4 separate regions of the Homo sapiens genome follow, and all the other regions are linked to region 1. Evidence: fine-mapped expression QTL. A gene starts in region 1. Each other region holds a variant in brackets. All regions are shown on one strand. Distances are from middle to middle. Region 1 holds the start of PLXNA4 (plexin A4). Region 2 overlaps PLXNA4 (plexin A4). Region 3 overlaps PLXNA4 (plexin A4). Region 4 overlaps PLXNA4 (plexin A4).

What was found. PIP is the estimated chance that this variant, and not a neighbour inherited with it, causes the effect.
Region 2: its variant is fine-mapped to the expression of PLXNA4 in esophagus muscle (GTEx, PIP above 0.99). The same link has a PIP of 0.9 or more in sigmoid colon and stomach.
Region 3: its variant is fine-mapped to the expression of PLXNA4 in blood mononuclear cells (TOPMed, PIP 0.99). The same link has a PIP of 0.9 or more in whole blood.
Region 4: its variant is fine-mapped to the expression of PLXNA4 in whole blood (INTERVAL, PIP above 0.99).

Annotation. Positions count from the first base shown.
Region 1 is chr7:132,572,565-132,580,669 of GRCh38, forward strand. It overlaps PLXNA4 (plexin A4), which reads right to left and starts at 3,906. Exons shown (of 32, transcript NM_020911.2): 1 at 3,858-3,906. RefSeq lists enhancers at 2,390-3,367, 3,368-4,345.
Region 2 is chr7:132,395,022-132,403,126 of GRCh38, forward strand. All of the region lies in intron 3 of PLXNA4 (plexin A4), which reads right to left. Among named protein-coding and RNA genes, the nearest start is that of PLXNA4-AS1, 47 kb to the left of the region's middle. The variant C/A (reference allele first, on the strand shown) is at 3,610.
Region 3 is chr7:132,482,098-132,490,202 of GRCh38, forward strand. It overlaps PLXNA4 (plexin A4), which reads right to left. Exons shown (of 32, transcript NM_020911.2): 3 at 7,195-7,377. Among named protein-coding and RNA genes, the nearest start is that of PLXNA4, 90 kb to the right of the region's middle. The variant T/C (reference allele first, on the strand shown) is at 3,687.
Region 4 is chr7:132,548,414-132,556,518 of GRCh38, forward strand. The region is part of intron 1 of PLXNA4 (plexin A4); the gene reads right to left. Among named protein-coding and RNA genes, the nearest start is that of PLXNA4, 24 kb to the right of the region's middle. The variant G/T (reference allele first, on the strand shown) is at 4,839.

The sequences.
Region 1 (8,105 bases):
AACAAGGCCTGGGCTCTTGTTCCAGGGGAATCAGGACCCCTGCCTGCCTTTCGTTTTAAAATCCATCTCTTACCACTCAGCAGCAGAGCCCCCTTCAGTCTCCCTGTGGGCTCCACCTTCCTACCGCAACTTGAATGGTACAGCCTGGGCAGTGAGGACAACATGAAAGAAGAAAGAAAAAGTCTGTGCAGCTAGAGGGGATCAGGTGGGAGTCTGGGGAGGGAGCAGTGGAGCTTGCAGCTTTTAAAGAGACAGTGTCCTGTCCACAGGGCCCTGTGTGGACCAAGCATAGCTCGATAGAGCCTATAGGCCAATTACCCTAATCATGTGCATCTCCCAAACAGCCATTTATTAGTGAGACGTCTTTTTAAAATGCCGCTTTTAAATATAAATAACACTTAATCATCCAGCTGTCGTTAAATTCATGTTATATTGATTTCTTGGAGTGCCGCAAATTTGAGGGCGAATGGGCTGGCGGATGTGCGCACAAAGCCAAGAGGTAGATTAGCAAGTGGTGGGGGCAGAGAAGTGGGGGTTGGAGGAAAAGGAAGGGAGGTGTCAAGGGAGGGAAATGAACCTACTCAATAGCCCAGGGTCTGAGCCAGTTTCACATTGGGTAGCACTGGACACAAATAAGAAGAGAGGAGACGCTGGCACATCTGTTGCATAGTCTAATGAGAGCCAAGATCATGGTCGTGTTTTCTGTATTGCTGCCGCCCCCTTGTAACCCACCACAGAGCCGCTCCAACAGGTCTCTGATGTGCATTGTCTGCGTATGCCTTCTCTAGGTGAGGATGGGGAGAAGCAGCTAAGAAATGCCCCCTAGCTGGCTAGGAGGAGAGAGATCCACAGCGATTTCTCTGCATCAAAGCCTGATGATAACTATGAATCAAGAGTGGTTAATGACCCAGCCCCTTTAGCTCTCTCCCACTTCGGGACTGCTGCCATCCTAGAAAGCCCCCACTTCATTCCCAGCAGCCCTCATTGTGATGAAAAGGATCCCGAGGCCAAGTGTATGTAGGCAGACTCTGCCGTGCAGATTTCCCTGTCTGCAGGGAGTAGCAGCAGCAGGCGACAGGAAGGCACAGAGAAGGAGAAAGGAAACAAGTTGACTGCCTTGGAGTCCTCCAGAAATGTCTGCAGTGTCCCAGTGGGCATCCAGGAGGAAGTCCTGGGAGGACAGATGAGAGCCCGGGGAGGCGTGATTGGGTAAGAAGGAGCAGCTTGTAGGTGACCCATGCCTAGTGCTCACAGGAGAGCTGCCTTAAGCACCGTCTACCAGGCAGCGAGGGTCTGCTGAAAAGAAGCATTCATGGCTGGGGTTTTTCTAGTGTGACTCCCTTCCCAGTGAGAAAGACCTCAGAGAACTTAAAAGGAAGGGCACAGAAGAGTGGCAGAGAGGGTGAATGACAGCGTGGCATGCTCCAGGGCTGGGCAAGAGAGCCAGGAAAACGTAATGTATACTCCGCTTTACAGAGATGTTAATTAATGCCTGCCTTGTCCTAGAAACCAAATTGGTACCTAATGCTAAGTGCAGAAAGTGCAGAGATTTTCTGAACCCAGATGTTTAGCTTATAACCAGCATAATGATACTAGCTTTGCATTAAAATGATGGATCCTGAGGCTGCGAATACATGAGAAAGGAAAGAGGGTAGGGAGGAAAGCAGAGAAAGGAGTGGAGGTCTACAGGGAAGACACAGACATTTCAGGAAGATCCTGTACCCTATCCCTTTGCCTCTTCCAGGTCCCATGAGGGACTGTTTACCTGGGAGGCACCCACTGTTGCTGGAGCTCATTATTTCTTTTGCAAACCATGTGCTGCTGTACGCGTAGGTGGGATCTGCCTGTCCACGCCCTCAAGGGGCATGTGGGGAGAAATGTTCCATTTCTTCCACAGCCCGGAAGACAGAGGTGGACCCCATTGTCACACATGGCGGGGGCGGGGAGCTGACCACATTTAGCCAGACTCTGAGAACGCATGTGTGTATATATATTGGGTGTGTGTGTGCACACGCCCACCATTCTTAAAAAGCAAATAAGGTTTCTTCCCCCTACTGGGGTCTCTCCATTGTGAGAGATTTGCTTTATTCCATCTATGCTTTTCAATCAATCAAAGGGCAGCTCACACAGCACACAGCGGGAATACAATCTCCCTCCCGGGGTGTCTGCGCTTCTCCCCAGCCTAGCCAGAGACCTTTGCAGGAGCTGAAAAAAGTTTGGAAATAGCGGAGTCAGGGTGCTGAAAAAGCCCTTTCATTCAGCCCCTATCTTCAGGATTTACAAAAACAACCCAAATTCTGAGCCTAGCACTGAGGCCTCCTTGTTCAAAAGAATGTTTGCTCCTCTTCCATCATGTTCTGTAAGGCTCCTAACATATTTTTTCCACTGGTGGGTCTGTGGGATACTCTGAACACATGATCTTGGACAGAGGGTACAAGCTTATTCAGTTTTGTGGGAAAATGATATGATCATGTTGCCTAGAAAGCTACCTCAAAGTGACAGCACCAGAAACACAGGAGCTTGTACATATATATTCAATTCCGAATTTGATTTGGATCTCATGTTCTTCTCCCTATGACAACTGAGACCCTAAATTAGTTGCTCTTAGACCCCAAGAAGGGAACTATGGAAAAGCCTCTTAGAACCCCAGCCACTTCCTACCTCCTCCAGAAAAAGTTAAAATGAGCAGCCTGTGAAATTCCAGCCAGAGAGAACAAGAATGAAAATGCTTTCGGGAAATAGGACCTTAAAGCACGGGCGTCTGGGGAGTGATTCTACAATCGGAGCAGGCTTGGGCTCTGGGGGACGCTGGCAGACCCACGAATGCCTTGCCTTCTCCGGTGGGCAGTGCCGCCACGGTCGTGAGGGAGGGGAGCCTCCTCTTTTGGAGGACTATATCCCTCGTGCTTCCCCCTTCTAGTTCTCTTTCTCAGACACACACCACGAAAGGCATGTGACAGGTGTTCGCCAGCCGGAGGCACCGGGGAAGGCAGCCCCATGTGCCCAGGGAGGGTAGGGAGGTGAGAGGGGACCCAAGTCCTGTGTCTCCAAGTCCTGTCTGCTTGCTGCTAAGCAGGCACTGAGGCTGTGAATAAGGTCTTACCTTTTAAGGAGGATCTGACCCCCGTACCTTCCCTAGACAAGCAACATACGCGGCGATGCTTTAAGCCGCTTTCTGCCTGAAATCTCGGCGCATTCCCGGGGAAGCAGTGCCACGCTTCAGAAAGGCGTTTGTGCTGCCTCTTACTGGGGAAACGCAGTGTCTGTTTCATATGCGCCGCCCTACAGAACTGCAGCCCCAACCGCCTATCTGGCCTCCTCCCCGGGCGCTGGGCCACCACTCTCTCCAAATATGCGTCCGAATATCTGTGGGTCTGTCTCCCGTTGAAATCCCAGGGTGTCCAAAGGCCACGGGGCCGCGATGACACTGGGTAGGTCTCCGGAAACCTCTCAGGACTTCTCCCATTTTAAAGCCCAGCTAGGGACGAAAGGGGCTGGGAGCTGAAAAATTGCTCCCTCAACCTCCCCGGGTGGGAGGCAGAGCCGGGAATACACAGAATCCCACCCCGAAAGTCCCGGGAAAGAGAAGTCTGAGTCCAGGAGCGTGAGAGGAGAACACACCCGGGAAATCCCTGCTCCGGCCGCTGCACCTCCGCGGGCGTCCAGGTGGGACGTGGGCAGGTGCGCGAGCGCCGTGTGTGCCGGTGTGGATCTGTGTGTGTGCCTGCGTGTGTGCGTGTGCGTGTGCCGCGGGCTGGCTCCGGGACACTGAGGACTCCCGGGTCGGCCCAGGTCTGTCCGACCTTGCTGCCCTCGCCGCCCGCCCGGCCCCACTCCCCGGCGGGCCGGCTCCTTACCTGGACGCGCCGCGTTTCCCTCCTTCAGCGGGAGCGCCGCATTGACACTGCAGATGGAGCCTATGCCGCTGCCTCTCGCCCTCCTCTGAACGTGTGCGTGTGCGCGCGTGTGGCTGCCTCCTCCAGCCCCAGCCCCGAACGCAAATACTCCACCGAGGCACAGGGAAGCCGGGAGCAGCCGAGGAACGCGGAGGGCGCCGAATCAGAGCCTGCGGGGCTTGACAGCTTCTCTTGCGGCGTCCAAGGTGGGCGTAATGTCCAACAAAAAGGTCGGAAAATGGGGATCGATTCCGAACACCCCTTTCCTCCACCCAGCCCCGGAGCCCGAGCAGCGGCGGCGGCTCTCGGGGGCTGCGGTGGCGACGCCGGGCTGCCCCCCTTCGTCCCCACCCCCGCGGGCTGAATGTCCTTGATGCCAAGCGGGCACAGCGGCGTCACTCCGCGCCGCCCATGCTCGCCCGGTCGGGCCGCTGCCCGGGCGCGGCGAGTGCGCGGGGGACCCGCCGGGGAGCGCTCTCGGCGCCTCTGCGCGCCTCTCTGGGTAGCGGCGGCCGCCCCCCGGCAGCCCGCGGCCGGCCGCGCCGCGGCAGCCCCCACCCTTGCCGAGACACTCGCCGGGCAGTGCCCTGGGGCCGGGGCTGGGGGGCCGCGGGAGCCGCCGGCTGCTCCCCGGGGAGGCGCGGGGCTGCGGCGGTGGTGGCTGCGGCGGCTGGCGCTGCGGCGGCGGAGAGCTCGGCCGCGGGCCGAGCCGGGCCTCCCGGGCGCGCCCCCGGCCCCCCGGGCGGGCTGCTCGCAAAGTTTGCAGGGGGCAGGGAGCGGGGCCGCCGCTGGCTCGGCCGCCGCCGGAGCTCCCGGGCTGCCTGCTGCCGCCGCGGCTCGCTGCTGCTGTGCATTGAAGCCCGGCCAAGCGCTGCAAAAACTCCAGCTGCCTGGCGCTCTCTGGGTCCTCCTCTCCTCCCTCCCGCCCTCCCTGCTTCCCTTCCTCCCTCCCTCGCCTCGCCTCCTCTCCTCCCTGCCGCCCGCCGCCCGCCGCCGCTCCCTCTCTGGCTCGCTCTCGCTGGCTCGGAGCTCGCGGCTGACATCTAGAGCGAGGGAGAGCGGCCGGCAGAGGGGGCAGGGGGCGCCTCCCTACATGCTCCCACCCGCCGCCGCCCGGCTTGCCGGCTCTCCTCCGCACCAACGTTTGCCGACACCCCCCTGGGTCCCCTCGGCCCGCACGGAGCTACCCTGGCGGTGGCGATGTGGGGCGGAGAGAGGGGCATACATGGGTGACCGGAGCGCACGGCGCGCGCTCAGAGGGAGGCGCTCAGCCGCCTCGGAATTTGCAGCTCTGGGCGCTGGCCGTCGGAGGGACCCTCAGGTGCTCAGAGCTGACACAAGCGCACACTGACTCTGAGGCATACACCCATTGCTAGTCAGAACCCCTCCCAACACCCCACCAAGTCACCCCCACATGGCACCCAAGGAGGCCGAGGACACTGAGGGCACAAGGCCCGCACGAGAGAACATGAGTGGCCAGTGCCCCAGAGCTGGCTTGGTAACCTGACTTTTCCATTCATGTTTATACTGAGCGGCTCTCCTGGCTCCTCTCTTCTCTGAAACCCTAGATCCTAGACTACATCCAGAACAGACCATGCCAACATCAGGGTGGTTTCTGAAGCCCAAAGAAAGAAATCACCATGTAGCTCTGGTTTAGGCAGTGAAGATGGGGAGTGGGTGGCACTACCTCCCAAACCTCTGCCTAGATCCCCCTAGGAATGGGCCCACCCACCAAGAGAAACCGAAGGGATTCCCACACCTGTTAACTCAACTCTGTGCATGCCACCCTCATCCTCATACCCGCTCCCACCATAGTCTGAGGGAAGTGGCACCTTCAGCAGAGTCCAGTAAGCATTCCCTGGGATAGGCAACCAGCAAGGACGACCCTCTAAAGGAGCCCATGGCTCTTGGCCTCCTCTCTCCTGTCCCTTCTTTAGTTTTCACTGTCCTCACACCCAGAAACTCCCGCCCATTACTGTCCCTCCCATCGAAACATCTCAGAGCCTCCTTATTAGGTGGACATGACTGATAATGGCTTAAATGCCTATACCTCCCTATAGGGGTTATATTCTCACAGAAATCGAAGTTGTGTGAATTGGGGAGCCTTTGAAAGGAGCTGTGAGATGACAGCTTAAACAAGCCCCAAGGTGAGCGGCACATATAGGTCAGGCTTGGCCCACCCAGAGAGGACCCTGCTGAAACTTTGCTCTCACCAATGAGAAGATGAACCAAGCCAGAATGAGGAGGAAACCACATGTTTGATTCTTTGGTTAAAGGATATTCCAGGAGACAGCGTGGAGCCCTTTTAGTCTCTGGTTCTCTGCTGAGTCTTGCATGGCCCAGAAAGCAGCAAGGAGTTATCTTATTAAGCTTACATGAATACATTGATCTGACTCCACTCTTCCCAGAAACCCTGAATCCCAGACTCTAGATAAAGCACACAATATCAGGTTAGTTTCAGAAGTCCAGAGACACACATAACAAAATCACTCAATGCTACTGCCTCTTGAACATCCTTCCAGGGTGGAGGAAGCCCAGGGCCAAATGCCTCTCTCTGCAAGACTGGGATTAGCACAAGGCCAGCCGGGCACTGAGGATACAAAATCCAAGGAGGCCCTGTCACCCCAAGGTCCATGTAAGGTTTGCATCACCTGATCCTGACACTGCTTCTAGGTGTCCCTTTTAAAATTGCTGCATGGGTCCATCACGGCCCATTTCCAGAAGTGACAGCCCGGATAGCCCCATGAAAGTCCCTAATGGGTTACTTAAGGAATATCGTTCAATTAAAGGCGCGGGGGAGACTCCTTTCAAACTTCTGTTGGCCACTCAGCTTTCAGGGTATGTCATAAAATGCTGAAAGGAAGGGGGGAAGGTGAGAAAACAACTCTGTCTCAATTCTCAGTCATTCTAGCATGTATTTTTAATACAATCTGATTGTCTTTTTCCTCCTCATATCGGTTGTATTTGTGTGTGTGTGCGTGTGTGTGTGTGTGTGCGTGTGTGTGTGAATATGGCTTGAGTTCCAGGCCCATTTCCTGATGGATGGACGGGAAGTCAAAGACCTTTTTTTTTTTTTTTTTCCAGAGGTGGCAAATAAAATGTGTTTATTATTCTTTATCTCCTGCCTAGTGTGTGGTGTCATTTATTTTCATTCAAAGAAATGAATGCCATGTGGTGCCTGAAGAGTAATAACAGAGCCAAATGACAGGGAAGACACACAGCAAAAAGCTGGACCAGCCACGGGCAGGTGAGGGGCCCAGCGAGCTCTCCCGTTGTTAATGGGGCCAGGGGCCATATCTCAAATTGCCTTTCCCCGGTTGCCTTCCACTGAATAACACGGTAAAAGGCATACCAAAGGGGGCAGTTATCATATTATCGGAAGGAGGAGTAGAAAGGGTCAAATTAGCTGCAGTAGAGGATTTTTTTTTTTCAGTGATGACCCATTGGATTGACTCCCTTAAGTTAGGAGAATGGAATGGGGTGGGATGAGTAGGGCCTCTACATTGGAAGTTAGAAAACACATGTCCTACTCCTGGCTCTGTCATTGGCCAGCTTTACAATTTGGAGCGGGTCACGTCCTCTCAATGATACCTCATCTCTCACCTGACACATTCGCCCCTTAGAGTTGCAATGACATTCAAAGGACATACCATCTTATTAATGTGCTTTGAAACTCTAAGGTAGGTACAAAACACATGTAGGGAATTAGAGTCGCTTTCCAGATGAATGTATCTTTTTATTTTTTTCAAATAGAATGATACAATGAGGGTAGGCCTTCTGCTATCTTGTCCCCACCCCAAGAATAAATACACAGGCAAAAGCAGCATCTTACCACAGTTCAAAATGTGTTTCTGCATTAGGTACAAGATCTTCTGGCTCTCACACCTCCTCTACCCCCTCTCCCTTGGTGAGGGCTAAGGGAGACACAAGTAGGACCATCTAGGTGTCCCCTACTGACAATGGCTCTGTGAGTCACTCCCTCTACCTCTTGCCTGGTCGTGAAACTGGTTATGTCATTGTCTGGACCCATGGCCACAAGAGGGAGAAGCTAAATGGCACATTGCTTCAGAGAGTCCTGTTTTCTAAAGAAGCTATGTCTGTGGGACTTGGGTTGGGGTTTATTGCTGGGTTTAGACAGAAAAAGTATTGGTTCATCTCCCACAGCTGAATAAAAGGACCAGTTTAATAGGAAAGAGGAGAAGAAACTCT
Region 2 (8,105 bases), 180 kb before region 1:
CTCCAGCGAAAGTGAAGCTGCATCTCTCTGCAGCCTTACAGCAAATGGGTAGCCACCACAGCTGCTGATAAACAGCTAGGGGAGCCATTGGCCAAATAACCCACTTTTCACACCTGGAAATAATGGGGGAAACACTCAATTAGGCATTCAGGTGTAGGTCTGGACTGGAGTGGAAGTCACAGCCTGCCCTCCAGGCTCCTAGAAATCACTGGTTTGAGGCTGTTGCAGGATGACAGGACCATGGGTTTTATGGGGGCTAGTTGGCATGGCTGAGGACAAGGGGCTGGCTGGTGACCATTCAGGCAGAAAGGAAGATGAGGAGTGGGGACAAGATGAATAAGCACTTTCTTTAGAGTCTGAGGCCCTGTGAGAGGAAGAAATCAATGGAAACCTTGGGAGGGACCCCAGAGAGAGTCCTGCTGAGAGAGGGTGTCGGCCAGATAAATTTGATGATGCAGCACTGAGTGGGGGCACAAAGTCCTATTTGAAGTATTGCAGGCAGGCTGGCACGTGCGTCCCACCTGTGCATCTCATGTCTGGCCATGTGGCCCCTGACATGCTGCTGGGCAGAACCAGGGGGAAGCAGCAGCCAGTTAAACCCTGGCACCCATGCAGGCAGCCTCTGATAGGCAAACAGCCTGGAAGCTGGGAGCCTCAATTAGCCTCTTGGAGAGAGGGGAGAGTATTACTTGATTTTCTTTGCCGCCCAGAAAAAGCAAGAAGTCCAGATGCAAGTGCAATCCATGACCACTTGCTCTAGAAGGAATGACCAGGATCCCCATGGCCGGGAAACAAATGATGAAGCCAGTTAGCAGCCTGATTCCAAATTAGAGTTTCTCCCATTATACCTATGCCTGTACACATGTTCAAGACACAGAAAGCTTTCACTGTTTGGGGGTATTTTGTTTTCTCACAAAATATGGGCAACTGGTATCCCAAGAGCTGCCATAGTTTGGTGAGATATAAATTTCTGGTCCTTTAAGCCTCACTGGAGATAGACAGTGATGTTGCCTGGGGACTTCCTGGGACACACAGCTGAACAAAAGTAGGGGTAAGGCAAATGTACCCTAGAGATGAGGAGCTGTGGTCAAAGTGATCACATCAAGAGAAAGCCTTCAGCCAGCCCCCTGGGATATCCCCACAATGGATGGGCAGAAAGGACTCTGGAGACTCAGTACAGATACTGAAGAGTATGCCATGCTTTGAAAATTGGGGAGTTCATAAAGGGAATGGGGAGAGCTGCAGGTTCCCTAGGTATCTATGGAAGTTTCGGAAAGAGATGAAGAATAGCCAACACATATGTAGCACTCATATAAATTAACTCTAATTTTCACAACAGCACTGTAAGATAAGCACTATTTTTATCCACACTTGATAGATAAGGAAGCTAAGCCACAGAGAGGTTAAGTAGCATGTCCAAGGTCGAACAACTGATTAGTGGCAGGGCTGGACTTGGGTTTTGGGTTTTTTATTTTTTTTGTTTGTTTTTGAGACAGTCAACCCCTATCACCAAGTATGGAGTGCAGTGGCACAATCTCAGTTTGCTACAACCTCCGCCTCCCAGGTTCAAGCAATTCTCATGCCTCAGCCTCCTGAGTAGCTGGGATTACAGGTGTGTGCAACCATGGCCGACTAATTTTTTGTATTTTTGGTAGAGGACGGGGCTTCACCATGAGATGAGGCTGGTTTCAAACTCTTGGCCTCAAGTGATCCACCTGCCTCAGTCTCCCAGTGTGCTGGGATTACAGGTGTGAGCCACCGCGCCTGGCCAGCAGGGCCAGACTTTGAACCTCAGGAGGCTTCTCCCAAAGCCTGTGCACTCTTAACCACGGTGCAGTGCACCCTCTCCAGAGTGAAGCAGGATGCTCGTTTCTTTAGGGAAAGACCCTGCCTTGGTGTGGGAAATAGAGCCTCCAGGGGCGGCCCTGCCCCACACCTGCCTGGGGCCTAGGGAAATCCTGCCCCAAGATCCAGACCCAGACACCTGCCACTCTGACAGCTGGCACAGGGATGGGGGCTGGGGACATCACACCACCCGCATTCTCTGCAGGGATACCCAGCCATCCATTTTAGGCTAAAAGCCTTCTCCGCATCTCAGCCTTCCCCAAAATTTTACAAATACTAGAAGATAAAAGCGCAGGAACCAGCATGAATGAAGTTGGTTTTTAAGAGACAGTGTTTAACATCAAGATCCTTCTGATGTGAGTAATTTGGATTCTGATGCAATTCTGGATTGTTTGTTGAATTATGCATCAGCAGCTTCTGTTGCTGTAAAAAGCACCACCGTCACTCGAGCTAATCTGAAACCTGCAGCAATGAAGACAGTTGGGTTCACAGTTTGGATACTGAGATGCGTCTTTGATGATAGTGAACCAGCAGAAGGAGAGAAACAGACACAAGGGCAAGTGGAGAGCAGGTAGTAGGAAGAATTGGGGGAATGAGGTAGGATTAGGTGCTTTATTTACCACACACTCATGAGAGCCCCATGCTGGGAGAAAGAAAAGACCCAAAGAGGTGAGCAGATATCAGCTTCCCCCAAATCCAGGAAATTCCACAGGATACAGAAAGACAAGAACAGAGAGAACCAGGGATTCATTCTGGCAAAGGATGAAGCAGCTCCTAGACTGTCAAATGCCCACTGTCTCTACCACCTGAAATATGATGCTCTCCTTCAAGCTCTTGACCTATGCTGGGGGCCTTCCTACTGGGCCAAAGGCCATCATGGTCATCATTATTAATTATTTTCTCAGTGTTTTAATATGTATTTCAGGTTGATATCCTTATTTAAAAGCAATAGCTAAGGACAGTATGCCTATTTGACGAAGGGCACAGGGGAGAAAGGTGATATACCTAAAGTCACACAGCTGCTTAGCAACCGGAAGGAAATTGGAATTCCAGTCTCCTGACTGCCAGTCACCTTCTCTTCCATCACCCCAGGCTTTGCCATCTCACTATGGAGGCTCCCAGGATCTCTGACAACCCATCAGACCCACTGCTTAGGCTGGGAATGCCAAGTCCCATGCCTGGAGCAGTAGAAAGCAAAGGCACCAAAGCCCCAAGCTAAGCCACCTAGTCCAAAGCCACGCTGTGCCTCTAGCATGGTGTGTCCCTGAGCAAGTTATGGAACCCTTGGTGTCTCAGTTTCCTTATCTGCCATAGACGCCTGATAATAGTTCTTGCTTCATGGAATGAGATGATCCATTTGAAACCTTTGGATCAATGCTAAGCAGAAAATAAATATAACCTGCCATTTTCATTATTGATATTCTCCTGTGAAACTGTTGTGACTTCAGAGGACTGATCCCAAAGCCTGCCAGGAAGACCCTGCTGAGTGTCCCGCTCTCCTGAATAGCCCATGTCCTCACTATCACAGGTTCTATTCGTGTCGCAACAAGGAACCACACATCCAAGGCAGCCAAGCCAGGAGGGCCCTGGGTGTGCGGGAGTCAGCTCTGTGGAGATGCCGTCCATGCCCGGTCTGACGGGAACCCCAGCTCTGCGTTTCTCCTTTTCATGAAGCCAGTGAGCCAAAACCACCCTCCTGGGCTGGCCCAGTTTAAGAGCCTGGGCTCCAGGGACGCAGGGAGGCCCCTCAGCCCAATTATAAAT[C/A]AATCTAGCAGCACTCACTGAGGCCATTGCCATAAATGGCTCTAAAAGCTCAGCCTCTTTCGGCCCAATAGGCTCAGGGCTCCAGGATTAATGAGCATCAGCTGCCGGCAGGCTGGTGGGGACAGATGCCGACCTAATGAGCACAGTGGCCCAGCCCTCGCCAGCTCGAGGTGGACAGGGCTGATGAGCAGGTGTCATTGTCATGATGCCCCTTTGCCAAGTGTCACTTTGAAAGGGAGGGCTGTTGTCATCAAGTGGCATCTTATTACCCCACCTCAGGACACCCACAGGAGATTCTAAAGGCTGTCCACAAAGATGGCCTTTGTGGCTGCCACCTCCACTCCTCAGCTGGCCCTGGCACCAGGTTTTTCTCAAGGCCTCTCAACCACAGGGCTGGATAAGGGTTTTAGAATCCTGGGCATCCCCTCCCATCCCATGCCATCTGATTGGTGCTGCATTAAAGTACAGAGGTCCCTGCTAGAATTTCCCTCAGTCACGTCTCTATTACACCCACGGGCTTCAAGTTTGCCTGGAGTATTTACACACAGTTCTGCAGATTCAAATGGATTCAAATGGGCGCAAGGGCTCAGCATCACACTGGTCACCAAAGGGACACAACCCAGTCCCTGCAAGACATATCAGCTTGTATGTCAGTCAAAGACACAGGCCTTAGAGGGACTGATCATAAGCATAAAACATAGCAACAACAAAAATAGTCATGATCACTTCTTCAGCATTTATTTTGTGCCAAGCACTGTTCCACGCTCTTTATATGTGCTGGCTTATTTAGTAAATGTGAATGAAAGACTCTGAATAATAAGAGTCACGTTATATTAAGGCAGTCAATGCAGGTGAAACAAAAAAAGGAAAGATCACTTCGGCTGACTGGAGAAATCAAGAGAGGCTTCATGGGGGAGGCGGGACCACACTGGTCCTAGTGCAGTCTGGGAAGAGTGTTCCAGAAGCAGAAGCAGGCACACCTGGGCAGGGCTACAGTGAGTTTGCTGAAGGTCACACATCTGTGCTTTGGAGGGCAGAGCTGCAGGGCCACAGGTATATTCAATGTAGTGGGTTCTGGCATCTGAAAATGTTGTTAGGATGAAATTTCAAAATCAGGTTTTATTCCTGATGAAAGTAGACTGCTCTTAACTGGGGCTTCACTGCTTCTTTTCCATTTCTGTTTGGAGTGTGATTTTTTTAAGGTAAGATGTACACGCAATGAAATGTGCAGATCTTCAGTGCACACTTTGATGAGTTTTTGACAAATGCCTTCACCTGTGTAACTAACAATCCAATCGAGATCTAGAATACTTTCATGGGCATGAAAGGGGAGGAATGTGACCTTTGTGATCAGATGGTCCCATACCTACATCTTCTGGGCATTTGTAAGTTGGAATAAATCAAAATAATCAACTTCCTCCCTTACCCCACGCCAGTCCACCTCCTACCCCCGGAGAAAAAATAAAATAAAATTCATCCACATCTAAACAGACAAATGCCTACCTAGTCTGTCTGTGTATTTGTTACCTTTGTGCCCCAGAACCAAGCTTCATACCAGGCACAGAGTGAATGATCCATACGTGTTTCTTAAAAAAAGGAATTAACATCCTCAGATTAAGGTCTCCCAGGAAGTAAAGGACTCCACTTTCTCTAAGTTCCCATGTGACACTGACAATTATATTTTCCTGTCCTCTCTGTTGAGATTAGGAAGGAGTCCCTAGGAGGATGCAGAAGAGTATCCTTTTGTCCTGTCTCCTACCTGTCACCCAGACTCTTGTGTTCTCTACAGCCAGTCCATCTTAGGCCTCAAATTCCATATGTTTGACAAAATCAAGCAGGTAGTTCAAGGTGCTCGTCTCTCCTCCCAGCTATTCAGCAGACAAAATCTGTGACATAATGTACCCCAGCCTCAGACACGCTCACCCTTCTTTCCCAGGCCCTGTGTGAATGGGCCAGGCCACTCCTTGATAGTTTTCAGGCAAAACACATGAGAACACTCCCAGGAAAGAGAAGCCTCCAGGGGTACCATCCGTATGCATACCACGCATTTACTTCCTAGCCTCACCAGCGTTTTGGGTGTGGCCACAGCTACTCCCCAAACCTTTCATCTTGCAAGTCCCTAGATGTCCTCCTCGGGAAAGCTCCCTGCGCACAGCTTGTGGGAGACTGCAGGCTCATAAACAGCATAAGCCAGCATTCCAATCAGATTATTTCTCACTTGCAATATTGCACAAAGAGAAAAAAATAATGCTGAACATTCTGTTCGTGGAAGAAAAAATAGCAGGAGAAAACTGTCACATTGTTTGGTCTATTTTCAATTTCATTCCCGAGCCCTGCAAATAGCTATCTGTGCAAGCAGGCCAGAAGAGGACTCCAGCGACCTGACATGCACGATCTCAGATCAGGTCTCTAGGGCCTGTGAAAAAGGGAGAGACCTTTGGCTGGCACATATCTACACATGTGATAAAATTGCACAAGACTAAATACACACTCGCCAATGCAAAAAACTGGTGAAATCTGAATGGATAAGCTTGGTGGGTTGTACCAGTCAATTTTCCATTTGTGATATTGTACTATAGTTATGCAAAATGATGCCACGTGGAGGGGAGAACTGAGTGAAGGGTACAGGAACCCCTCTGTACAATTTATTGCAATTGCATGCAAATTCACGATTATCTCAAAAGGCAAAGTTAAAAAAATGCGCTTCCAGTGTCTGATTTAATGGGACTAGGTTGCAGCCTGAGCATCAGAGTTTTAAAAGCTCCCTAGGTGGTTCTAATGTGAAGCCCAGGCTGAGAACCTTTGCTCATGAAGGTTGGGAAGGTGAGACACACACATGAAATCCAGAAACAATCAGCATGTGATACAGTACCAAAAGCTTCATGAATACTTGTGGAGCAAATCAGTGAACTGCTGAACAGACGCATAAGGTTAGAGGAAGTCCGGTAGGATGAGGGAAGACTTCATGGTGAAGTGGAACTTAATCAGGACGGGGCATAAGTGGAGAATTCAGAGGACGGGAAAGGGCCCTCTAAGCCAATAAAGAAGGGCTCAGAGATTGTGTGGCCATACTGGGGAGGAGGGGAAGAACTGAACTTGGGGACAGCTGAGGAGTGAAGATGGATAAAACTTTTCATAATAAACTGGCTCTATCCCTGTGCTTAGACGAGTGGATCTTTCAAACACCTGAACCAGCTCTAAGTCCCTGCAAATTGCCAAGAGCAATTTTCAGCAAAAAGCCAATTCCCCAGAAGGCACTTGGCATCTCTCAGATAAGCAAAAGAGGGGGAGGCTGGAGAGGCTTCAGAATATAGTATCGATGGGTATAAAAGTAAGCAGTCCTTGTCATGGTTCATGTCACTTTGCCTGACTGCACTTCAGCTGGCCTTAGATTCCCCAGTCGAGAGCCCAGCCAGGTGCTAGAAAATACCAGAAATGACCCGGGAAAGGGTAAAATGGAAATCTCAAGCCTACATACCAAAGCGAATGCACTTGACTCAGCAGGTCCCTAGAGTAATCATGCAACACCTCTTTATTCTTATTTTATACACAAGTCTAATAAGCTTGAGTATCTGTTTCCAAGCCCGTAGCAAATTAAAAAGAACAAATTAAGTGGCAGCAGGAGAGCTGCATCAGACAGGATCAGTGACAACAGTGAGAAGTGACAGGTGCCAGACACCCTGACGGTAGGCGGGGAGACAGAAAGCTATAAAAAGTAACTTGGGGCACTCACCTAACATGAGGAAGCCACCCTAGCGAGGCACAGGGGCTCCATTGTAAAGGTGGAGAAAGAGCTTTAAGATACTCAAGTCCAAGTTCTAAATGCCTTGGAGAACATCTCTTTGCCTTTTCCTGTTATTAATTAGTCCAACATACACACAGGGGAGAGGGGCAGTGTGCTGCTGCAGGCTGCCACTATGGGAGGGGCAGCTGGCTAATCATCTTATTGCAGGAAATACCCCCTGCCAAAAACACAGCTCCCCTCTCAAAGCCTGCTTTCTCACCTTGTAGCACTGGCCACTGCCATCACAGGGTATGCAGAGCAAAGGACAGGCTGCTCCCGAGCCGCTCAGTCCATCGGATCAATCAGGTTTAACAAGGAGGCATCCGAGGATCAGGAGAAACACCTCCTACATTATTACCACAGCACCATCACTTTGCATGAGACAGGTCTGGCTGGGAACGCCACCTCCAGCATGGACAGAAACTGCGTGTCCTTGACCCAGTTGTTTCATTTCTTGTGCTGAGCACGCCCACCCATTGACCCCCAATCCAGAGAGCTAGTGTTGAAGAGCTCATTAACAAAACACAAAACACTCAGCTGACGCACCGCCACCATGCAAATGCGTAATAACTGGATCTCTCTTCCCCCACAGCTAACCTCAAGCATCTCTTCTTGGCCAGCTGCATTGCCTTGGCTCTCTGTGTGGTTCAGAGCCAGAGAGGGCAGGCTGGGCAGCCACTTCCATGCCAACATCCCAGGAGGCAGTGCTTGG
Region 3 (8,105 bases), 90 kb before region 1:
TCATGTAGAAGGCAGCCTCCAACATAGCCCCCAGTGATCCCCACCTCTGGGTATTCATGACCTACAGAGTCCCTTCCTGGAGTGTGAGCTGGACCCACTAGCTGGCTTCTAAGACATAATACAGCAAAGGGGATGGGGTGTCACTTCTGAAACCAGGTTTCAAAAAGACAATGGCTTGCACCTTGCTCAGCCTCTTTCTCGCCCCCATCTCTCAGACATCGTTCTAGAGAAGCCTGCTGCTGCACTCCTTGTTGTGCACGTGGCCTCATGGAGGGGCCCACATGGCAATGTAGGGATCTCTCAAGTGAGGACCTGAGGCTTGCCAACAAACCCGGGAGTGACATTGGAGGTAGACTCTTCCCCATTCTGGTCTTTAGCAGTGGGATGACTGCAGCCCCAGCCAATACCATGACCCTAAGCCGGAGGACCCAGCTGAGCCATGCCCAGATTCCAGAACCACAGAAACTGTATGTATGATAATAAGTGTTGTTCAAAGCCTCTAAGTTCTGGAGTAGTTCACGGCAATCGATAACTAATACACCTGTGTCTCCTGGGCCAGGAGAGAAGGTATGGAGTGAGTGTGGGAGCTTCGAGAAACTTTTTTTTTTTTTTTGAGATGGAGTCTCACTCTATTGCCCAGGCTGGAGTGCAATGGTGCGATCTCAGCTCACTGCAACCTCCGCCTCCTGGGTTCAAGAGATTCTCCTGCCTCAGCGTCCTGAGTAGCTGGGATTACAGGTGTGCACCATCATGCCCGGCTAATTTTTGTATTTTTAGTAAAGGCAGGGTTTTACCACGTTGGTCATGCTGGTCTTGAACTCCTGACCTCATGATCTGTGTGCCTCAGCCTCCCAAAGTGCTGGGATTACAGGGGTGAGCCACCGCGCCCGGCCGAGAGACCTCTTTTAAAAAGTCACCATGGATGCTTCTATGAGAAGCCAGAACTGCTGCGAAAAGCAGCACCATGACATCATCAATAAGCAAGCCCAGTGGACACATTCCCAGGAAGTTCCCTAAGAACAAGTATGGACTTTCAGCAGACCCCAAATCAGAACATCAACTCATGGGCTGTGAATTGGTCCAACTGCCACTGCCTTCCCCATCAGAGTGGCTGAGGAAATCATAGCAATTGCCGGTAACAAAGACCTCCCCTGGCTCTACCCTCGCTAGGAGTCTTCACTGGTATTGACATCAAGATTCTATTCTCCTATCCAGAGTCTAGCAGGTGTGAGCCCAGCAGTAAAAGGACCACTTATGGTTGGGGGCTCATTCCCTCTTCTTGCCTCTGCCTCCTCCCTCTTCCTCTGTACATCATGTCTTTCATCCTTTCCCATCTTTGTTGTCTTGGTTACATGGCCAGACTCCTAATATGCTGCTAGTTTTCATTTTAATGATATGTTTTTGTAAAGCACAATATTTTACTTCAATTGCATGTGTCACTGGATAAATTCCTCTAGTGCGTCTGACATTTGTGTATCAGCTGACTGAATGCGCTCTATGATTTGGGGTGTTTGTGCAGCACTTTCTTCAATTTTAATGTGTTTGCATTTTAATTTATGATCAGGATCTTTCTATACCAATGTGTGTATATATACACACATATGATTCAAAAAAGTGGCACACGTATCAATAAATCTTGAATTGGCAAAGCTCATTTAAGACTATCTCTTTAAATCATGTGCACTAGCAATGATCACTTGGAAAACAGAATGACAAGTGTTCCTGAGAAACTCTTTGCTGGGATTTCAATGTGTGTTTCAGGAGGAAGTCAGGAGGAGAATGCAACAATGCCTAGCTATTGGCTGCAGTAGAAATTTCACGATGAGAACACCTCCCCGGGTTTATTCAGGTCAGCAAGGAGGGACCACTTGAGATCCCCCAGGGATGTGCAGGGAAGGTGGGTGGGCCCAAGGGCAGAATAGTGAGAAATGGAAAAAGATAAGAAAAGAGGGCCAGTGTGGCCACACTTACATCAAAAGGGTGATTGAGTGAGGGCTTAATAGTGTTCAAGAATATAAAATATGTCCAAGAGGATATCAACCAGCTTAGTTGCTCTTTTAGTCAACTGAGTAAAACTTGGGAAGAAAGCTTAAAACATAGCAGAAGAGATTGAAACAAGGTGGGAGGAAGGCCCATGAGAAGTGGATACATTGGTCTGAGGCAAGATCAGTCTGAAGGGCCAGTCTTAGAATTCCCAGGCTGGAAAGACTAACGACAGAATGCCGTCTGTCTGTGGTTGAACGTGAAATCAGAGGAGGGAGGGTGGCACGCTGGCACACCTGTGGGATCTTCTGCCTGGAGCCCTTCAACCTCAGCCTCCCCTTCACACAACCCACAGGGTAAGGTCTATGCAGGTTTAATATTTGCAAAACCAGGGATGGAAAATGCAGACACAATATAGCAAATAGAGGGTCTTTTCCTGTCATGGAAATCGGTCAGCCCTGATGCTTCTGCATTTCTTTCCCTTTGTGCTTGTGATCAATCACACATGAACCCATGGCAGCTTGGGCTGGAGAAACATATAGCACAACAGAACTACCTGACCGAACCCTGTATCAAATACATATGCCCTCTGCCCTAACCACATGTTCCTAGTCTATTTGGTGTTCCAACATTGTATCTCCATTTGATTTCCTGACACTTCCATCCATCTGCAGGGCTTTCTGTGCTATGAATATTTATTTTTAGTTAAAGTGGATTCAAATTTCCAGAGTAATTTTAGGAAGAATTCCCAGGTACATTTAGGAAGCAACAAAGCAGAGGCTGGACTCTCTGATCTGATATTGCTTTGTGACTTGAGCACTGAAGATACACACACAGCATCTGTTCCTGAGAAGCAATGTTCGCCCCAGGTGGGTCTCCCTCCACTCCAATCCACTCCTGGGTGATTCCCCCTTGTGGACCTGTGCCGAAGGACTAGGGAACAAAAGCAAATTAATTTTAAAACAGGCTTGAGAAAAAAAAATTAGGAAGATTAAATTAATCTACATGACAATTCCCAATAAGAATGGTTTTTGTACTATATACTCCTATTGCCTCTTCATGGGAATGTGCACCCAGTACCTATTCAGAGAGGCTGGTATGGATTAGTCTGTGCACAGACACATGGATGCATGTCCCGCAACAGGCTAATAGCAGGGCCAGCCAGAGTTCCGCTTAACCAACATCCATACAGCGCTCCACCCCCTTAGGTGTGAACAGTTTAACCTAGCAAAAACATCCAGGGAAGACGCAATCACCAGCGAGAGGAGCAATCACACCTCAAGTGGAAGTTTATGATGTTTTGGTTCACAATGAACATTAGTCTCTCCCACTAATGTCAGGCAGTAATTCACCACTGAACAGCAGCCATAAAAATGATCGCTTAGTGAAAGGAAAGCAAGAGGCAGAGAAAGCAAGAGAGGGAAAAGATTCCAGCAGAAATATTCAAGCAAAGAAATCTCGTGCTTCTGAGACAACACTGAGCTGATTGTCCCAACTCAAGCCAAAGATTTAGGTTTGCTTGGCCCTAAAGCCAGTCAAGATGGCATTTGCCTTATGATTTTTACCTATAGTGGAAATGTTAACAGTCTGTAGGTTATTGCTAAGTTCCTAGACACCTGCTTATGACTGTAGTATTTATAGGTCATATTTCTTAACACACATACCCTTAAAGCTCACCACAGGAAGAGGCTGCCAATACCATC[T/C]GCAACACACACACATCAGAAAACATCAAAGACATCTAAATTGGCACTTTCCTCACCTCCTTTCCCCCCGCTTCATGTGACGTGTGCACTAAAGGAGTGAAATTACGGTCGTCAAAGACAAGGTTGCAAATGATTGGGACTCATGCCTTTCAAGCAAAATAAAAAGTAATTTTGAGAGCAGCCCACGGATAGCTCGGTCTAGCTCCTGGACCCCTGAAACCCACAGCAAACACCCTTACTCTTAGCATCCCCCCAAGCTCTCTCCTGCCCACCTACCCCCATTTCCAGTCTCTTGTCATACCGTAAAGAACTCTGAAAGGTCCTTGATACACACAGGAGATTATTACAGGGCTCAGAGAAACCAACTCTGTAATTATGGCTACAGTATGATTTCCATTATTCTCACGCCCTGGCCTCAGTCACTTGCAAAACTTCCAGCAAAATCCTCCTGCAGCTCCACAACTTGTCACGGCTGGGCCTCTGCCCAAAAGGTGACTGTGGTCCTGATAACCTCTGGGAAAAGCAAGTCAGAATTATTACAAGGAAAGGGGAGTGGTGCTTAGTGAGTGAGTGGGGGTGGGGAATTCTATTGTTCAAGAAAAAATAAATAAATGGGCCACTTTTGCTTTTTATTATTTCAAACAACAGACTCGGCAGCCCAGCCTTCCTTTCCCAACTCAGACTGTTCCCCTGGGCCAGCTGTGCTGAGTCTGCAGGCACGGGAGCCGGGCTTGAGCAAAACCATTAAAAGGCTGCCACTCCAAGCCTGCAGAGCAGAAAGTTTGGCCGCCCCAGTGGCCTGGCTTTCCCCGGGAGGACCGAAGGCTCATTCCCCCCAACTGACCCTTGCGCTCTTACCTTTCAAATGTTTATGCCTCACCAGCCCCACCACTGCTCTGGAAATTAGATAGAATATCCCAGGTGGCTGAAACAGAACTGTTCTTATATCAACCTACCAAAGTAAAAGATGGGAATGCCGGCCGCGGTTTATGAAGCCCCAGCCTCTTGGTGGGGTATTGCCTGTGTCACCTGTCACTGCCTGCCTGACCGACTGCTGGACTCTGTCCTTACCTGCCTCAGGAGGGTTGTCTCTGAGCGCCTTGCTGGCCCAGGCTCCTGGGGGTGTCCTGATCCCAAACTCATGGTGCTGCACTTGACCTCCCTGTCGGGGAACAGATTTGGACAGGCTTCCACAGGCAAGAGAGTACCAGTCACCAAATGCCTCAACCCACCCTTGGACAAACAGCACAAAAATGCAAGTTGACTATCTTGGGTTTACAATGCAGCCATGGTCAGGAAACACCTTCCTTTTTCCAAGAGAAAATAACTGTTTTGTTATGTGCACTGAACTCTCAATGTTCATTTCATTGATAACATTCACTGCCCAACCAGCTCAGACAATCACACACACACACAAATCCTCATCCAGGGTCTACTCCATCCTGCCAGCTAGTAAATGGTCCTCTGGCAGCTGGTAGGAAATTCAGCGGGTAAGACTCTTTTAGGGCAAGGCAGGAAGTTACTTCTACATTGCACTGAGATTGAGCTCACCGGAGAAAAGAGTTAAAGCATCCCCCATACTGCTTGCTGACTTATTTACTCTTAATGGTGCTCATTCACCCATTGCAGCAGGTGAAGCAGGTCTCAGTGCATGAATTGTACACAGTAATGCCCCCGGTATTTAGAATTCACTTTTCCAGCAGACCAAATTTGCCAAATCCTACTGAAGAATCGAGCCATCTGATTCACCTGCCCAAAAGCTCATGTACTTCTCTCCTCAGTGTGGACTGACGCGTGTCAGACACAATTTCAGAGTTTGGCTATCTGGTTTCCTAGCCCACCAAAGCTGGAAGCTGCAGAATGAGGGAGGAGGAAAGGTGCTGAAGTCAACCAGGATTCCTGGCAGCAACTGGAAGTGATGAGTGGCCAAGTGCATGAGAGGAAGACCCGGGAAGGCAGCAAAAATCAGACACAGGAGCTGTGTGGGGATAACATGCCCATGTCTCACAGCGTCTTCCCTGGGCATCCACAAAACTCAGTTCAATATGTGAACAAAAATCACGAGGAGTCTGAGGCAGCAAGGAAAGATTCCATTGCGCTTACCATTTTCTTCACAGAACGGAGGTATGAAATACAATTCTTTGCAGGGAATTATGAAATACAATTCTTAAAAATGTGTACACAATGATTTTGCTGTTTTTTAGTTGTGACACTGAAGGCGGTCCACTCAAATTAGGCAGTTACTTCCTCCTGGGCAGCACCTGCTGTGTGGTACATCATGGACACCATTCTTGCAGAGTACCATGGTGTTTCCCCAGTGCTCATTGTTTTCTTTCCCAGTCATTACCCATAGAATTACTCCACACACAAGTTCCCAAGTCACAAACACACTCTGGGGTGCCCGCCTCTTGTCCTCCACATGCTCCCATTCCAGACACACCACCTGTCCGCAGAGATGCCAACAGAAATGATTGCTGGGCTGTTACATTGTTGGATGGTAAAATAGGCATAGTCCTCTAAATATGCCCAGAACATTTCCTCTTGACCATCCAGAGCTAGCAGCCAGAAATACAGCAAAGGGAAATGGAGGGATTAAGGCTTAGTCTCAATCTTTACTCAATCTGAATCACACAATGTCCAGAGAACCCCAAAAGAAGCCAAAATAAAGCAAGCAAGAGCTCCACATGGAATCATCAATATTTCCTGGGAAAGGACTAAAATGCAATTATTGGCCAACAGGAAACAGGACCTCCTGCCTACCACCTTAGAAGGACTTTTAACCCAATCAAGAAGGGCATGCACTATAGGGCCAGTTCCAACTCATGAGATGAGAAGCCTGAACACAAAACATCCCTGGGCGGATGACTGCTCCCAACACAGCTGATGAGCCAAGATCGCCCAGGACTCCAGAACCTGCCAGCTTCCGGAAGATGCAGGGGAAAGGTCAGGTCCCCAGATCATACCATCTGACCTCACCAGAGCAATTTTCATGTTCCCATTGCACCCGTGGTTTTCTCAGCCCACAACTTGGCTCTGGGCCCCATTTGCAACTTTAATAGGTCTGCACTTTCCTCCATCTGTTCCCTGAATGCATTCCAGATGATGCAGCAGCCAGAAGGGCTGGAGCAAGGGGAACAGGCATGTCCCTTCCCCCTGCCCACCTTCCCCAATTGCTCAGACCTAATAAAGCCTTTGCCTTAAGGGCACAAGCCCAAATTGAACACAGCATACACCATTTAGAACAACACTGCAAGGCTGGTCTGACACCTCTCATGTGCACACCAGCTCTAGGGAGGAGGTGAATCCACACACTCACCCCACAACCTCAGCACAGAGGCAGAGAAAGGACAAGATGATCATCATGACCTCAACAGCAGCGTATCTCCTTAGCTCAAATCTGTATCACCTGCCCACACGCCCAAGTTAGCAAAAAGATGTAAGATAACATCCAGCCCAGGAGGGACAGACTGTCTTCACAGTAACCAAAAGTACTGCACCTCATTCCTACCTTCTTCAGCTTGCCACTTTTGGTGCCCACAAAGGCCAGAGAGTGGTTCTTGTAGACATATGCGATGACAGACGTCATGCGGTCCCTGTCCTCCGTGAAGACGGGAATTCCACGCACCATGTCGGACACTCCCAGGGGAGCATTCATGTCCAGGCCACAGAAGTTATCGTCAATGGTTAAGAGCTGCAAATTTTAAAAAGAGAAAAATTAGAAGGGAGCGTCAAGGAAATTGGCAGAGATATTAAGTCAGGAAACTATGGAGGTAGAAGAATCCTTAGAGATGAAACATCTGGTAACAATCCCTCTTTTTTACATGAAAAACGTCACTCCAGAGAAACTAGGTGACCTGTGAAGAGTCACCTGAGTGGGCAGGTGCAGGGACATGGCAGAAAACACAGGTCCGCAGGTCTCCTTTCTCCATAATCTGTGTGTCTCTGCCCCTCATCCAACCCCTCCCAGCGCCATCTTGGGAGCTTTGTCCATCATTATTATCATCATCATCCTCACGTGGAAAAGCCTCACGTGGAAAAGCCCTGGGTCAGCCCAGATGAGCAGGGGCTCCAGGCCGCTCTGCTCAGGCACAAGAGGGATGTGGTCTCCGTATCTATACACAAAGAGGAATGTGGTCTTCGTATCTATACAGAAGAGGGATGTGGTCTCCATATCTGGAGCAGACACACACATGAGGACTCAAAAGTGTAGACTAGGGAACTGAAAACATTAGCATGTAAGTAGCACTATCACAACAGAGGCATGTGCAGGCAATCAGCTGGGGAAAGGAGCAATGGGGGAAGGAATGTGCTGATTCAACTCAATGTGCCACAGCTGGTGCTTTATGAGCTCCGACCTCAGGCTCCCTGTGTCTTTTAGAGCATTGTGAAGAAGGGCAGCCCTGGCCCTGCCATGCCTAC
Region 4 (8,105 bases), 24 kb before region 1:
GTTTTGCTTGTGGAGAGAGCCCAGGAGTGGGACATGGAGGTAGACAACACTGATAACAGTGAGAGACGCTGCCAGGCAGTCTGAGTTCTCTGTTCCTAGCCCTGGGCCAAGAGAAATGTGCTCTGACCCAAGGTTAGGCATGTTCTCACCCAAGACCAAGACCAAGGATTCTCCTAAACATTCCAATAAATACCCAACGTAGCTTTTAAACCTTAATCTGTTATTTCCTAGTTTGCAGAGTAAAATATACCCTGTCAGAAGTGTTTGAACCAGAGTGACTCCATCTTGAATAGGGGATGGGTAAAATGAGGCTGAGTCCTACTGGGCTACATTCCCAGAAGGTTAGGCATTCTTAGTCACAGGATGAGATATGGGTTGGCACAAGATACAGGTCATAAAGACCTTGCTGATAAAACAGGATGTGGTGAAGAAGCTGGCCAAAACTCACCAAAACCAAGACGGTGATGAAAGTGACCTCGGGTCGTCCCCACTGCTCATTATATGCTAATTATAATACAGTATCATGGTAAAAGACACTCAGGCCAGCACCATGACAGTTTACAAATGCCATGGCAACATCCACAAGTTTCCCTATATGGTCTAAAAAATGGAGGAACCCTCAGTTCTGGGAAATCTCTGCCCCTTTTCTGGAAATCTCATGAATAATCCACCCCTCGTTTAGCATATAATCCAGAAACAACTGTAAGTATACTCCATCAAGCAGCTCATCCTGCTGCTCTGCCTATGGAGTAGCCATTTTTTTACTCCTTTACTTTCTTAATAAACTTGCGTTTGCTTTACTTTATGGACTTGCCCTGAATTCTTTTCTTGTGTGAGGTCCAAGAAAACTCTGTTGGGGTCTGGATCAGGATGCTTTTCTGGTAAGGCCCCTATCATCATCCCACCTAAGAAAACAGGAATCCCAGGGAACCTAATTTCCCCTCGTACAAAATATTTATTAACTACTCACACCCTTGAGGTGTCTTGGTAGGAACTGAACCACTTAGTTCAGACATTGGAAGTGATTCCAAACTTGGCTACTCATGAGAATCACCTAGGGAACTTAAAAAAAATCCTGGGTCCCAACCCTGGTGATGCTGACACATTTGGGCCCTCCCAAGATTTTTGAAAGCTGGAACCATCAATGCAGGAAAAACCTTAAAAGTGAGTGGACCCTAAAATCTTCCTGGGGGCAGATTTCCGTGCTTCTGGGAGGGTCATTTCCCTGAGTCATTACCCTCCTTAGTGTTCTGGAAAATGGCAAAGTACATCAAATGCAGGGAGGATTCCTCAGCAGTCATGACAATTGCTATTTGGGTTAAGTTACTGCTACATCTTTAATATTCCCTTGGGGTGAGTTGTTTGTTTGTTTGTTTGTTTGGGGAGCAGCATGGGGGCTAGGATTTTTTTCTTAAAATGACTTTAGAATGCTCAGCTTATTTTTGTGGATGGGCAGACAAGTTATAATTCAAACCACAGTTTGAACATTAGGTAGAGAGAGGTAGAGTTATAGTTTGAAAATTAGGCAGAAGAAGACAGCACAGGTGGGTGAGATCCTCACTTTACAAGAAGGTGGAGGCTGAGCCCAGGATCCAGTTGCAGTTTGGAGCACCAACCCAGACTTTGGGGTTGGAACCTTGTTCTGCTGTGGCTGTTCTGTGGGTTCTATAAGGCTAGGGCTATACCCCACCTGCTGCCCAAGGGTAAGGTTTACCCTGAAGGAAGTGAACGTTCCCTAGGAAGACAATGAAGGCTGGAATGTGGGTCTTCATTGCAACTCAGAGTACCCCTGACCCCCACAGCATGGTGGTGAGCCTGCCCTTCCTCTAGGGAGCAGGATGCCCAGGAGTGGGGCATGAGGCACCCACAAGTGAGGACAGGTCTAAGCCTGGAGATGCCTACAGTGGCTACCTTTTGAAGAAGTGTTAAGTTACTCTCTGTGTTTCCTTTATTACCCTTGATCCATCAAAAAAAGTTGTATTCAGACATACAGCCTGATCTCTTTGTGCTGGAAGGAATCTGGGGAAGGACCTCTTCCAGGCTAGGATTAACAGGGAGAATAGCAATGAGAGGGAGGGGTCAGCATTTCTTCAGCTGCAGGAGGCAATTAGTAGACACTTAAAGAGGATCTGAGCACAGCTCAGCTAATTTAAAAAATCAGCATAATTTGAGTTTTAACCAAAATATGACTTTATTTTGTATTTGCAAGGCACCAAGGTCTGCTATACACAATTAACCTCCCCTGTCCTCCCCTCCCTCAAGGCTTCTGTCTGACAGACTCAGCGGGAGGAGGAAAGGAAGAGTCCAGCTCCTCTGCTGCTGATGACCCTAATAGTCCTCCTACCCCACTGGGCTGCAATGACCACATCTGCACCTATAGTCCCTCATCCAATTTGGGACTTATTGCAGTGCAGACCTTAATCCTGGTCTCTCCCTGACCTCCTGGCCACTCACACACCCAGTATATCTCCATGCTGTCCCATAGACACTTCAAACCCAGCTCCTCAAAAACAAGCCCCACCTCTTCCTTCTCCTGCATTCTCTCCCTTTGCTAGAGCACAAGCACCCACTCGGTCCTCCGTGCCCCTCAGCTGCCTCATCTAATTCTCACCAAGACCCACTTCTGGGCCTCTGCCTTCCCTTCCACTTAGTACCTCAGGCCCAGTCCTCATCATTTCTCCCTTGGACCACAGCAGCAGCCTCCTGACAATTCCCCAACACTCAAAGTGCAGTCCTGGCATGCCGAACTTGGAGACAGCGAGCTTAGGTGCACACCCAGGTCCCCAGAGCACTCAGCAGCTTTCTTCACACATTTTCTCTTCCCTTCTCTCTTGACCAGATACAGAAGAGCCAGTGGGAAATTGAGAAGCCCTTAACAGGATGGTGGAGCCACAACATGGAAGGAACCTGGGCTCCTGAATGACTGTATGGAGCAAAATCCCCCCACATACTAACCCATATTGAACTGTGGTGGTTTGTTACAGAATTAACCAGCCATGATTAATAGTGAGCAACTCAAGAACAAAAAGAACAAACCTATAATAGAAAAGCAATGCTTTTCCATTCACAAACCTTTCATTACAAAATGCCGGTCGTGTCCTACAGCCAGAGTAGTGAGTATACCTCGCTGGAGGCTGCAAGGGCCAGCCAGTCCCCATACACAATCAGAGCTCTCTGCAAAAGACGTAATACCACCAGCCCTGTACTGTACTCTCTCAATTGCCCTCTAGTTTCCCCACCCCAATATTGCAGTGTCTATGATCACTGAAGGAAAATGAAATATGATTCTAGGTGTCACCTTTCAAAGGGTGTTAGTGACTGTCAGCTAAAGTGATTTAAGCCCCGGAAAAACCTCTGTGTCCTTTTAACATCCAAAACTAATCCTCTTCACACCAGACATCGATGTTAAATAAACAGAGATTTCCATTAACCTACACCTCTGTACATCTATTTTTAAAAAGCGGTGTCACTCTCCTTTAAATGAACATACTAATTAGTGTATTAATAAATAGCTGAATGGAATCAATGAGACATGTAATCAAGGTCTGACCAGGAGTCAGGGCCAGGTTGAAGGGGGTGGGGGGAAGGAGAGGAGGGAAAAGAATCTTATTAGCAGGTTTGCTGAGGAGGGACATGTAAAATCAATGCTGCACATGCAGCCAAGATGCAGCCGAAGTTGACAGTAGATGGAAAGCTAAGTGCTTGCTCCGCCTCCTTCCTTTGACAGGAAAGCTCCCGGTGAGAGTTAATGTGATGAGCAAGGAAGACATTAATTGGGGCAGGAAAAGCCATTCAGAGATGGTGTCCAGGATCACAGCTGGCAGAGTTACCCAGAACCTCAGTGCTAAAGCCCTGACTCCTAGACCTTGTTTTAAAACACTAAGAAAGAACACACTTACGAGAGTTGATTTAGTTCTCAGCAAACACTTGGTCAAAAAGAAGTCACAGGGGGAGTTATTTGTTTGGGGCTCTTTGTTACTCTTACCCCCCTTCAAAAATTCTGGTTCACAAGCAGTAGCTGGAAGTACCTTTGCCCCAAGATGCTAGGCACTGGGAAATGAAGGGCCTGGATTCTCTACAGGCAGCCCTGGGGGTGGGAATGGGGCAGCCCGCTTCTTCATCAGCTCCCAATTTCCTGTAGCACACCCCATAGCTAGAAGGCTCTGGAAGGTGAGAATAAAAAGTCCTTCTGCAAGTGTGAGGTTTCCAGCTGAAGTGGTATCTGATTACCCGAGCCGCTGCTCACTGGATCTCAAATTAGCACTGATACTCCATTTTCTTCATCTGGAGACACACCCCCTTTGGGCCACAAAACACTGGACAGAAGAAAAGTGGACTTTCATTTCCCTAAAGATTAATATCAGGAGAAATGCCTTTCTGTATAAAATCAATTAGGTGCCTGAGACCCTCACCCCAAAGCCAGCTCAGTGATGCTAGTTGAAGTAGAAGTTGTGTTAGGATAAAAGAAACTCAAAAAAAAAAATTTGCCTTGGGGCCAGTACTGCCCATTACAAGCCCTCTTAGGGGTGATTCTGCCAGGAGGCAGGGGATTGGCTTGTTAGCAGTTAGAATGCTTGGCTCAGGATTCTGGGGTGCTATGGGCTCCCATGCCATGAAACTGAAGTTCTTCCTAATTCTGGTTGCTGGAAAAGCCAGTATCTCTGGGTGGACCTCACAGGCAGAAAACCTGCTGCTCTGAATGCCTAGCTCTGGCACGGCATCCACACATGGATGATCTAGAAGCCTTGCAGATGCGTCCTGAGATATGTTTCTGCCAGCCCCAGGCATGGCCTGCAACCTGCTCACCCTGAGGTCAGCATTTCCTGGAATGACAGGGA[G/T]GACACACATAAAGGAAGTGTGGGGACATGGCAGGAGGCAGCTCTCAGCAGCCCTTAGGCTATTTTCCACATTACTGCGAATGGTATTTTGCCCCCAGGAGGTTCATAACAGTCAGAAGGATCTCCAGGTTCCCCAGACCCATCAGAAAAGCCAAGGGGTGATGGTCATCAGCCCAGGGGGAGAGCTTCCTGACAGGGTACATGAAAATTAAGTGCAAAAGAGGGGCCAGAGACAGCTGTCCCCCAGCTCAATCTGAAGCACAGGCACCTAGAGAATGGCCACACATAGGACCTTCCCATCTGGTTTGAGAGGTCCTAGCAAAGCACCCCTGCACCAGTCCATATCTTACTCCCTCCATTGACGTGCTAAAAGTCTGCCACTGGAACATGGTTTCTTTGGGTCAAGCATCATGCTTTCTCTTTCAACAACCTACACCTTAGTGTACCTCCTCCATCACCTCTGTTTTTCTGTGGCCCAAGGATAAACAGAAGAGAGTGGAGAGGGTGCAAACAGCAGGGTCCCCACTGATCTACATGGCTATTTGCTGAGAATTAGGGAGTGCTGTCCTCTCTGGTTGACCAGAACTTGGTAAACAGAAGGCATCTTGGGGGAAGAAAAGGGCAACTCTTCCTGAGCAAAGAGATACACCAAGCCTTGGCCAATAAAACATGAGCAGAATTTCAGCCCTTATTTGCTCCCAGCTCACAGGTATACACACTACAGTGTATATCACCAAAAGCCCTGTCTAAAGAAAGAAAGAGAGAAATAGAGAGGAGATACCCAAGTACTTGGGGCAAAATTCAACTATTTCTCAATTTTGCCCAAGGATACCCATTTGGAGATAGATATAGATATAGATACATGACTATTTTCAAACCAAAAATATCAGGACACACACTCAAGCAATGGCACAGAATATCTGAAACACAGGCTGTTCTAGTGAACACAGGGCCTGTGGTCACTGTAGAAGGGCTGAAGAGTAGAGGATGGCAGTGACAAGGACCCTGGGGGGACAGTGTGACAATGAGGTGCCCCTTTTCCTTTAGGGGACAGAGAAGCAATGGCAAATCTCCCCATGGTGTGCTATGTGGTGGAAAGACCACCTCCACAAGACCAGAGCCGGACTCTCTGCTCACAGATGTCCCATCACCTTCAAAATACACTGACACACTCCGTTTCCAGAGTCTCCAAGCTTTTGTTCCCTCTCCACAGGGGCAAATCACCTTTCTCCACAGTCAACCAGTGGTTCTTTCCTCTCTCAGCCCGAGTGTTGCTGGGAATAATGCAATGTTTCCAGCTTAATCGTTTGTCATCATGCAGAGATTTCACTGATTTCAAAGCTAAGGTGCCTGGAAGAATCGAGCACGCTCTGAACCAGGGTGCCTCAGGGCAGAGGGTTCTCACTGGCTGGCTGGCTTTACACAGGAGAATCCCAGAGGCCCTTACTCACCAGTTTAAGGCTATCTTTCCAGGAAACCAGGGCCTGGGGCTGAAGACAGCTGAGATGGGCAGTGTTCATAAATATCACCTATTGGAGGCAAGTGAGGACATCCAAGTATGCAAACACCATGTACACTGAACACACCTCTCTGGTCTCTGATGGACCACTTCAGCTTTCTGACTTCGTTGCAGGCAAACATTAGCAGATGCCCCATCCTGCAATGCTTGGCATAATTATCAGGTAGGCTCCAGGCAATAATTACTCACTAATGGTTAGCCACTGCTTTGAGCCAAGAGTCTCCTATCTGCTCTCCCTACACCAAATTCAGAGTCTTGGGTGGTAAACCTGAAGGAAAAAAAAAAACAAAAAAAAAACAGTAACCATCACCATGGCCTGGCAAAAAAACCACATTATCTAAGATATCACTCCAGGTCCTATAAAAATAACGTATGTTTACATGTGGATGGCTGATCTGAGCACAGATTGAATATATAAACGTGGCTGTTAATTCTAGACTCTGAGAAAATTCTGAGTCTTCCAAAAATAAAGGAATCCCTACAAATATTTTTAAATCTTTTTTTAAGAGGTCATACTCTGACAGAGAGCCAGAATTAATGCAATGGGACCAGCCACCTGCTCTTCTTCCCTTCCCATTTGCTTATAGAACCTCAAGGCAGTAGACTTGTTGAAGCCCAGTGTTAGAAACAGATGTGACTATTTATAAACCAAGAAAACTGAAGTGTTTTAATCCAACACAGGGTGGCAAGAAGCAGAACTGACAAGCTTTAGGAATCTGAAGAACAGGCAACAATTTTCAATAATATTACCTCTCCACTTATTGAGCATTTAATATGTGTCAAGCAGTGTGCAAGCTATTTCCCACGTATTATGTCACTTAATTGTTAGAGCAGTCCCTTATTTTACTCTTTTAATGATAAGGACACTGAACCTCAGAGAAGACAGGTAACATGCTGACGCCACACAGCTGAGTAGCCAAGGCTTGATGATGTCTGTAAATTACTTTAAAATGCATCAGCTTAAACAGAGTGGTATAATGTAAGTTAGTTCCAATCCTTACCCAAGGATGGTTAGTCGACATCTGAAGTATTGTAACTAACCAGGGCTGGTGACTTAGCCTTTGAAAGCCTTGCATCAGAGTCTACACTGTTTGTTAAAAAACATAAGAGATGTTGGAAACAATTTATCAGCAGGAAATTAAGCAGTGTCGAATATGCATAATTGGTTAGAAATGCCATCCAGGCATCTCTGCCCTTTGGGCACAAGAATCTGGCAAGCCTAGAGCCCTCTGTGGCTCCATTCTTGGCCTAGGGGTCCTACTAGGGTCTATTTCATCTCTCAAAGGATGCTGTCCTCTAATCCCACTAGAAGGTGAGCTGAAACCTGCAACCACATTGCCACATCTGCCTCAAATAAATCTTCCTTGAAATAAACTTGTAAGAGTTACTAAGTCAGTGCCTCCCAAACTTTCTCACTTCCTGACACTTGCAGAAAGTGATAATATTTTTACCACACCCTGGGGCCAGAGAGGGAGCTTCTGCTGCTGCATGCCCCTCGTGCCCTCTGGCTGTCCACCTGCAGGGTTGAGGTGACCCGCTATATCAGCAAACCTTGATACCCTTCCCCGGCACACTAGTTGAGGCAGACAGCAGGATCCACACTGAGCTTCAAAAACAGGCTGTATGGCTATTTATGTGCCTGGTTACTAACAAATATTGGTAGGTAGGGTAGAATTGAGTCTGCAACTTGCTTTTGTAGGAAGGTTGTGGAGGAGAAGGCCCATAGCTCTCACCTGCCTATAATCACT